2 linked regions of the Homo sapiens genome follow. The protein of the gene in region 1 purifies or fractionates together with the protein of each later gene. This does not show direct contact. Each region holds a gene or a part of one and is shown in the gene's direction. Other genes may lie near its edges.

What was found.
Region 2: the proteins of POLD3 (region 1) and TECR purify together in Homo sapiens (tandem affinity purification; one large-scale study listed by IntAct). This does not show direct contact.

The regions. Positions count from the first base shown.
Region 1 is NC_000011.10:74,595,467-74,599,119, forward strand, and holds part of POLD3 (DNA polymerase delta subunit 3), read left to right. Parts: intron 1-3,653. UniProt on the Homo sapiens protein: Accessory component of both the DNA polymerase delta complex and the DNA polymerase zeta complex.
Region 2 is NC_000019.10:14,532,476-14,536,128, forward strand, and holds part of TECR (very-long-chain enoyl-CoA reductase), read left to right. Parts: intron 1-3,653. UniProt on the Homo sapiens protein: Involved in both the production of very long-chain fatty acids for sphingolipid synthesis and the degradation of the sphingosine moiety in sphingolipids through the sphingosine 1-phosphate metabolic pathway.

The DNA.
Region 1 (3,653 bases):
GGGTATTTTTGGTTGTTGTTGAGTTTTAAGAGTTCTTTATATATTCTGAATACAAGACCCTGATTGAAAAATTATTTGCAAAAATTTTCTCCCATTCTGTGGATTGTCTTTGTACTTTCTTGATGGTGTGCTTTGAAGCACAGACATTTTTTGTTGTTGTTGTTGTTTGAGACAGGATGTCACTCTGTTGCCCAAGCTGGAGTGCAGTGGTGTGATCTCAGCCCACTGCAGCCTTGACTTCCCTGGGCTCAGGTGATTTTCCCACCTCAGCCTCCCGAGTAGCCGGGACTACAGGTGCGTGCCACCACACTCAGCTAATTTTTAAATTTTTTGTAGAGATGGAGTCCCGCCATGTTTCCCATGCTGGTCCCAGGCTGGTCTTGAATTCCCAGGCTCAAGCCCCTGCCTTGGCCTCCCAAAGTGCTGGGATTACAGACATAAGCCACCATGCCTGGCCCATGGAAGTTTTTATTGCTGATGAAGTCCAATTTATTTATTTTTCCTTTTGTTGCTTATGCTTTTTTAAGTTTAAATTTTAAAATGATTAAATTTTTTTTAATCTTATTTTTTTTTTTTTTTTAGTAGAGATGAGATCTTGCTATGTTGCCCAGGCTGGTCTCAAACTCCTGACCTCAAGTGATCCTCCCACCTTGGCCTCCCAAAATGCTGGGATTACAGATACAAGCCACTGTGCCCGGCCTAAGAAGATTTTTTTTTTTCTTTTTTTTTTTTTTGAGGCAGAAGCCTTGCTCTGTCGCCCAGGCTGGAGTCCAACGGCGTGATCTCGGCTCACTGCAACCTCCGCCTCCCTGGTTCAAGCTATTCTACTGCCTCAACCTCCGAGGTAGCTGGGACTACAGGCATGTGCCACCATACCCGGCTAATTTTATTGTATTTTTAGTAGAGTTGGGGTTTCACCATGCTGGCCAGGCTGGTCTCGAACTCCTGACCTCAAGTGATCTGCCCGCCTCGGCCTTCTAAAGTGCTGGGATTACAGATGTGAGCCATCGTGCCAAGCCAAGATTTTTTAAATTGAGAAATAAAGTTGTATGTATTTATTGTGTACAACATTATGTTTTGAAGTATATATACACTGTGGAGTAGTTAAATCTAGCTAATAAATGTATTACATCACACAGTTATTTTGGTGGTGAAAACATTTAATGTCTACCATCTTTTCATTTTTCAAGAATATATCATCACTAACTGTAGTCACCATGCTATACAGTAGAGCTCTTGAACTTATTCCTGTCTAACTGTAATTATGTATCCTTTAGACCCACATCTCCCCATTCCCCCTCCCCTAACCACTTCAGCCTATGGAAAGAAAATTCTGCTTTCCACTTCCGTGAGATCACCTTTTACAGATTCCACAAATGAGTGAGATCATGTAGTATTTGTCTGTGTCTGGCTTATTTCAGTTAACATAGTCTCTTCCAGGTTCATCCATTTTGTTGCAAATGATAGGATTTTATTCATTTTTATGGCTGAATAGTATTCCATTGTGTATATACACTATATTTCCTTTATCCATTAATGGACATTTATTGATTCCATATCTTGGCTGTTGTAAATAGTGCTGCAATAAACATGTGAGTGCAAATATCTCTGACATACTGATTTCATTTCCTTTGGATGTATATCCGTAGTGGGACTGCTGGATCATACAGTAGCTCTATTTTTGATATTTTGAGGAACCTCCATACCGTTTTACATAATGGCTGTATTAATTTACATTCCCACCAACAATGTATAAGCATTCTGTTTTCTCCATACCCTTGTTGTGTTTTCTTTTTGATGTGTTGCTTGTGCTTCTGACATAATATCTAAGAAGGCTTTGCCTAACCCAGGGTTATGAAGATTTACTCCTGTGCTTTTTTCTAAGATTTTTTAGTTTTTGCACTTATATTTAATTCTGTAATCCACTTAGAGTTTAAAAAAATCATGGTTATCACTATGTTTAAGTTTTCTACAGATCGTGTGCTTGTTAGCATCATTATTATTATTGTTTTGAGACAGGGTTTCACCCTGTTGCCCAGATGGAAATGCAGTGGCGCAATTTTGGCTCACTGCAACTTCAGCCTCCCAGGCTCAAGTGATTCTCCCTCCTCAGCCTCCCGACTAGCTGGAACTACAGGCGCATGCCACCACACTTGGTTACTTTTTGTATTTTTTGTAGAGACGGGGTTTTGCTGTGTTGTGCAGGCTGGTCTCGAACTCCCAGGCTGAAGCCATCCTCCTGCCTTGTCCTCCAAAGTGCTGGGATTGCAGGCATAAGCCACTGCACCTGGCCATGTACTTGTTAACATTAGAAATGCTTCAGTCGGGTGGCTGTGGTGGCTCAGTTGTATTAGTCCCAACACTTGAGGAGGCTGAGGTAGGAGGATTGCTTGAGCCCAGGAGTTCAAGACAAGCCTGGGCAACATAGTGAGACCCACATCTTTATAAAAAGTTTTTTTAAAACATGAGCCTGGTGTGGTGGCATGCACCTGCAGTCTTAGCTACTCAGAAGGCTGAGGCAGGAGAATTGTCTGAGCCCGGGAGTTCAAGGCTGCAGTGAGCTATGATCACACCTGGGTGACAGAGCAAGAACCTATCTCTAAAAGAGAAAGAGAGGAGAGAGAAAAAAGGGAGGAAAGAAAGAAAAAGAAAAAAATGCTTTAGTTCCTACAGTAAGACTATACTAAAGCTTTCAGATTAGGTGTTAGTTCAAGCTAATTTTTAAATGAATCACTGAAATGTATAAATATTGACTATATCTTCTAGGAATCACTTGGAGTTGATTTTTTGTGTATGGTGTAAGGAAAGGGTCCAGCATCATTTTTTTGCACATGGGTATACGGTTATCCCAGCATTTTATAATTCATATTATTGTCTTGGCATTTTCTTGCTAATTATATGTCTTTCCCCACTAGAATATAAACTCTATGAAGGCAGGAAACTTGTCAGGTTCATCACTGTTCTGATTACTATTGCTGTGTCAGAAATCACCCCAAAATGTAGTGCCTGGAAACATCATTTTATTATGCGCATAGATTCTTTTGCTTTGGAATTTGGATAGGGCACAGTGGGAATGGCTTATGTCTGTTCCATGATGTCTGGCATCCCCGCTGGAAAGTCTCAATAACTGGAACCTGGTCATCTCTAGGCATCTTTATGCACATGTCTGGCTGTTGATTCTGGCCATCTGTTGGGCCTTTAGCTGGGGCAGTGGACTAGAGTGCTTGCATGTGGTCTATCTGTATGGCCTGGGCTTTCTCACAGCCTGGTGTCTCCAGGTAGTCGGACTTCTTACATAGAAGCTCAGGGCTCCAAAAGCTTGTGTTCCAGCACAATGTAGAGCCAATTGCCTTTTCTGACTAGCCTCAGAAGTCAAGCAGTGAATAACTGGTCATACCAGATTCAAGAAGTGGGCTCTACTTCTCAATGAGAGAATGTAGAAGAGCATATGGAATGGAAGATGCTGTCTCAGCCATCTTTGGAAAATATAACATGCCACAATTATTCTGTCTTCAGTGTCAGGCACATAATGAATGCCAATACATACTGAATGAATACCAAGCACTATGGTTTATGTTTGTTTTGAGATAGAGTCTCACTGTATCACCCAGGCTGGAGTGCAGTAGTTCAAACATGGCTTCCTTTAGCCATGA
Region 2 (3,653 bases), on another chromosome or scaffold:
GTACTCCAGCCTGGATGACAGAGCGAGAGTCTGTCTCAAAAAAAAAAAAAAAAAAAAAAAGGGAAGCTTCAAACTCACTGTTCAAAGTGACCTTGAAGGAAAAAATAAATTGTTATTTTGCTGTGTTGTTTGTTATTCTCTGCCAACCTTTGCCAAGTACCCATAGAGGCGATAGCTACAGGGCTTCTGGGTGGGAGAAGCAGTTGTTTCCCGGCCCAGCGGATTGCATAGCAAGCAGATTAGTTTAACTGCATGTGTGTATTGTAGGTCAGTAAAAATAGAAAGGATGCTTTCACTCACACTTAACAAGCAATTTGAGAAAAGGTTTGTCTACATCAAAGAATATATTTCTGGCCGGGCGAGGTGGCTCATGCCTGTAATCCCAGCACTTTGGGAGGCTGAGACGGGTGAATCACTTGAAGTCAGGAGTTCGAGACCAGCCTGGTCAACATGGTGAAACCTCGTCTCTACTAAAAACAAAAAAATTAGCTGGGTATGGTGGCACGTGCTTGTAGTCCCAGCTACTGGCTTCGAGGCTGAGGAATGAGAATCACTTGAAGCTGGGAGGCGGAGTTGCCATGAGCTGAGATCACGCCACTGTACTCCAGCCTGGGTGACAGAGCGAGACTCTGTTTTAAAAAAAATAAATAAAGGATATATTTCAGCTGGGCACAGTGGCTCATGCCTGTAATCCCAGCACTTTGGGACACCAAGGTGGGCAAATCATGTGAGGTCAGGAGTTTGAGACCAGCCTGGCCAACATGATGAAACTCCGTCTCTACAAAAAATAAAAAATTAGCTGGGTGTGGTGGCGCACGCCTGAAATCCCAGGTACTTGGGAGGCTGAGGCAGGAGAATCACTTCAACCTGGGAGGTGGAGGTTGCAGTGAGCTGAGATCGCACCACTGCACTCCAGCCTGGGTGACAAGAACGAGACTCTGTCTCAAAAAAAAAAAGAAAAAAATCTATTTCTGCTTGGGACTAAATCCATCTTCCCACCCTCAAGCAGTCTGTTGTCCACTGAAAGGTTGGCCCCTGGAGAGACCTTGGAGATTATGAAGTGCAGTTTACAACTGATAGAGGTAATGCCCAGAGGGGTGCAGGACGTGCTGACTGTCACGCAACAAATTAATGTCTGGTTGAGGACTGTTATCATGGCAGTTGGGATCCCAGCAGTAGTGGAGATCGGTGGCTGTTTCCATAGTAGCCTCATATCACTGCCAAATCTCATCTGATCTGAGAGGAAAAGTTTTCCACTCTGTGGCCTAATTGAGGTGAAGCCTCTCTCTAGAACGGGTCACCTCCAGGCCTTGGCTGAAGCCGTCTTCTTAGAATACCAGAGCAGGCCTTAGCATTGTCTTGGGGTCAGAGCTAGGTCGGTAAGCGAACTGCTTATCCTAGGATACAGTATTTTTTTAATGTATTTTTTTATTTTATTGCTGTTTTTGCCACTGCAGATGAGACTCAAAGCAATGAGCCCAGCAGCAACTGGAAAAACAGCTACTACATCTTGTAATTGAGCCTGTTAATTCCTGAGAAAATCAGTCTGTCTTCAGCCTCCAGCAGTCCAGGTCACTGCCCATTTCCCGCAGCTGAATACCCAGAAGCGAGCCTCTTGGGGTCCCCCATAACCCACATTTAGGGTGTTTTCTTTCTTTTTTTTTTTTTACACAGAGTCTCGCACTCTCGCCCAGGCTGGAGTGCAGTGGCTCCATCTTGGCTCACTGTAAGCTCCGCCTCCCGGGTTCACGCCATTCTCCTGCCTCAGCCTCCCGAGTAGCTGGAACTACAGGTGCCTGCCACCATGCCTGGCTAATTTTTTGTATTTTTAGTAGAGATGAGGTTTCACCGTGTTAGCCAGGATGGTCTCGATCTCCTGACCTTATGATCCGCCCGCCTCGGCCTCCCAGGGTGCTGGGATTACAGGAGTGAGCCACCATGCCTGGCCTTTTTTTTTTTTTTTTTTTTTTTTTTTTTTGTGACAGAGTCTCGCTCTGTCACCCAGGCTGGAGTGCAGTGATGTGATCTCACCTCACTGCAACCTCCACCTCCCCGGTTCAAGCGATTTTCCTGCCTCAGCCTCCCAAGTAGCTGTTATTACAGGTGGGTGCCACCATGCCCGGCTAATTTCTGTAGTTTTAGTAGAGATGGGGTTTCACCATGTTAGTCCAGGCTGGTCTCGAACTCCTGGGCTCAAGCGATCCTCCTGCCTTGGCATCCCAAAGTGCTGGGATTATAGGTGTGAGCCACCGCACCTTGCCCAGGGGTGAGTCTTATTAGCACCTGATCAGATGGGAACTACTGTTCTACTTTACAGATAATGCAACTGAAGCTCAGAGAGGTAAACTAAGCTGGTCAAGGTCACAGAGCCTGGAAGCCAGGGAGCTGAACCTGGGTTTGTCAGACTCCAGTTTTGTCCACACTGATGGCTTCTCTGCTGATGCTGCCCTAGGACAGCTGGTGGCTCTCCTGCTGTGTTCTGAGGACAGAGCATCCCTGAAGGGAGGGCGAGGTGCTGCGGGTCAGTGTGGACTGCTGGGAGAGGGTCTTTCTCTGCCCTAAAATCGGATGGGCTGCCCCTTGCAGTAAGGGCAGGATTGAGAGTGATGAGCCTTGCCTGGGTGCAGTGGTTCATGCCTGTAATCCCAGCACGTTGGGAGGCTGAGGCAGGAGGATCACCTGAGGTCAGGAGTTCAAGACTAGCCTGGCCAACATGGCGAAACCCCCTCTCCACTAAAAATATAAAAATTGGCCGGGTGCAGTGGCTCATGCCTGTAATCCCAGCACTTTGGGAGGCCGAGGTGGGTGAATCACGAGGCCAGGAGATCGAGACCATCCTGGCTAACACAGTGAAACCCCGTCTCTACTAAAAAATAGAAAAAGTTAGCTGAGTGTGGTGGTGGGTACCTGTAGTCCCAGCTACTTGGGAGGCTGAGGCAGGAGAATGGCTTGACCCGGGAGGCGGAGCTTGCAGTGAGCCGAGATCGCGCCACTGCACTCCAGCCTGGGCGACAGAGCGAGACTCCGTCTCAAAAAAAAAAAAAAAAAAAAAAAAAAAAAAAAAAAAAATATATATATATATATATATATATATATATATATATATATATATATGTATGTATATATAAATTAGCCAGGCATCATGGTGCACTCCTGTAATCCCAGGTACTCGAGAGACTGAGGCAGGAGAATTCGTTTGAACCTGGGAGGTGGAGGTCGCGGACGAGCTGAGATCGCACCACTGCATTCCGGTCCTGGGCAACAGAGTGAGACTCTGTCTCAAAAAAAAAAAAAAAAAAAAAGGGAAAGTGGTGAGCCTTGAGCTGTGGTGAGCTATAAAGACCTTTCCTATGTTAGCCTGACTCAGGCCAAGATCCTGAGGGGGTTGGAGGGGATCTTAGGCTTTTCAGATTTTCCTGCAGGCTTCTTGCTTTGAGCAGATGGTGACTCACTGGGCAGATTCTCCTGGTGGAGTCCCTTCTGTCCTGGCTGTAGCTTTGTACTTAGGCCATTTCTTTGCTGTAGGCACTCAGAATCTCAGAGCCCCAGGCTTGAGATAATTTTTCTGGTTTAACTTCTGTAAAGTTACAGATGAGGGACCTGAGACCCAGAGAACAAGGCCTTTTCCAGGGCTGCAGGCCAGTTCCCCTTTG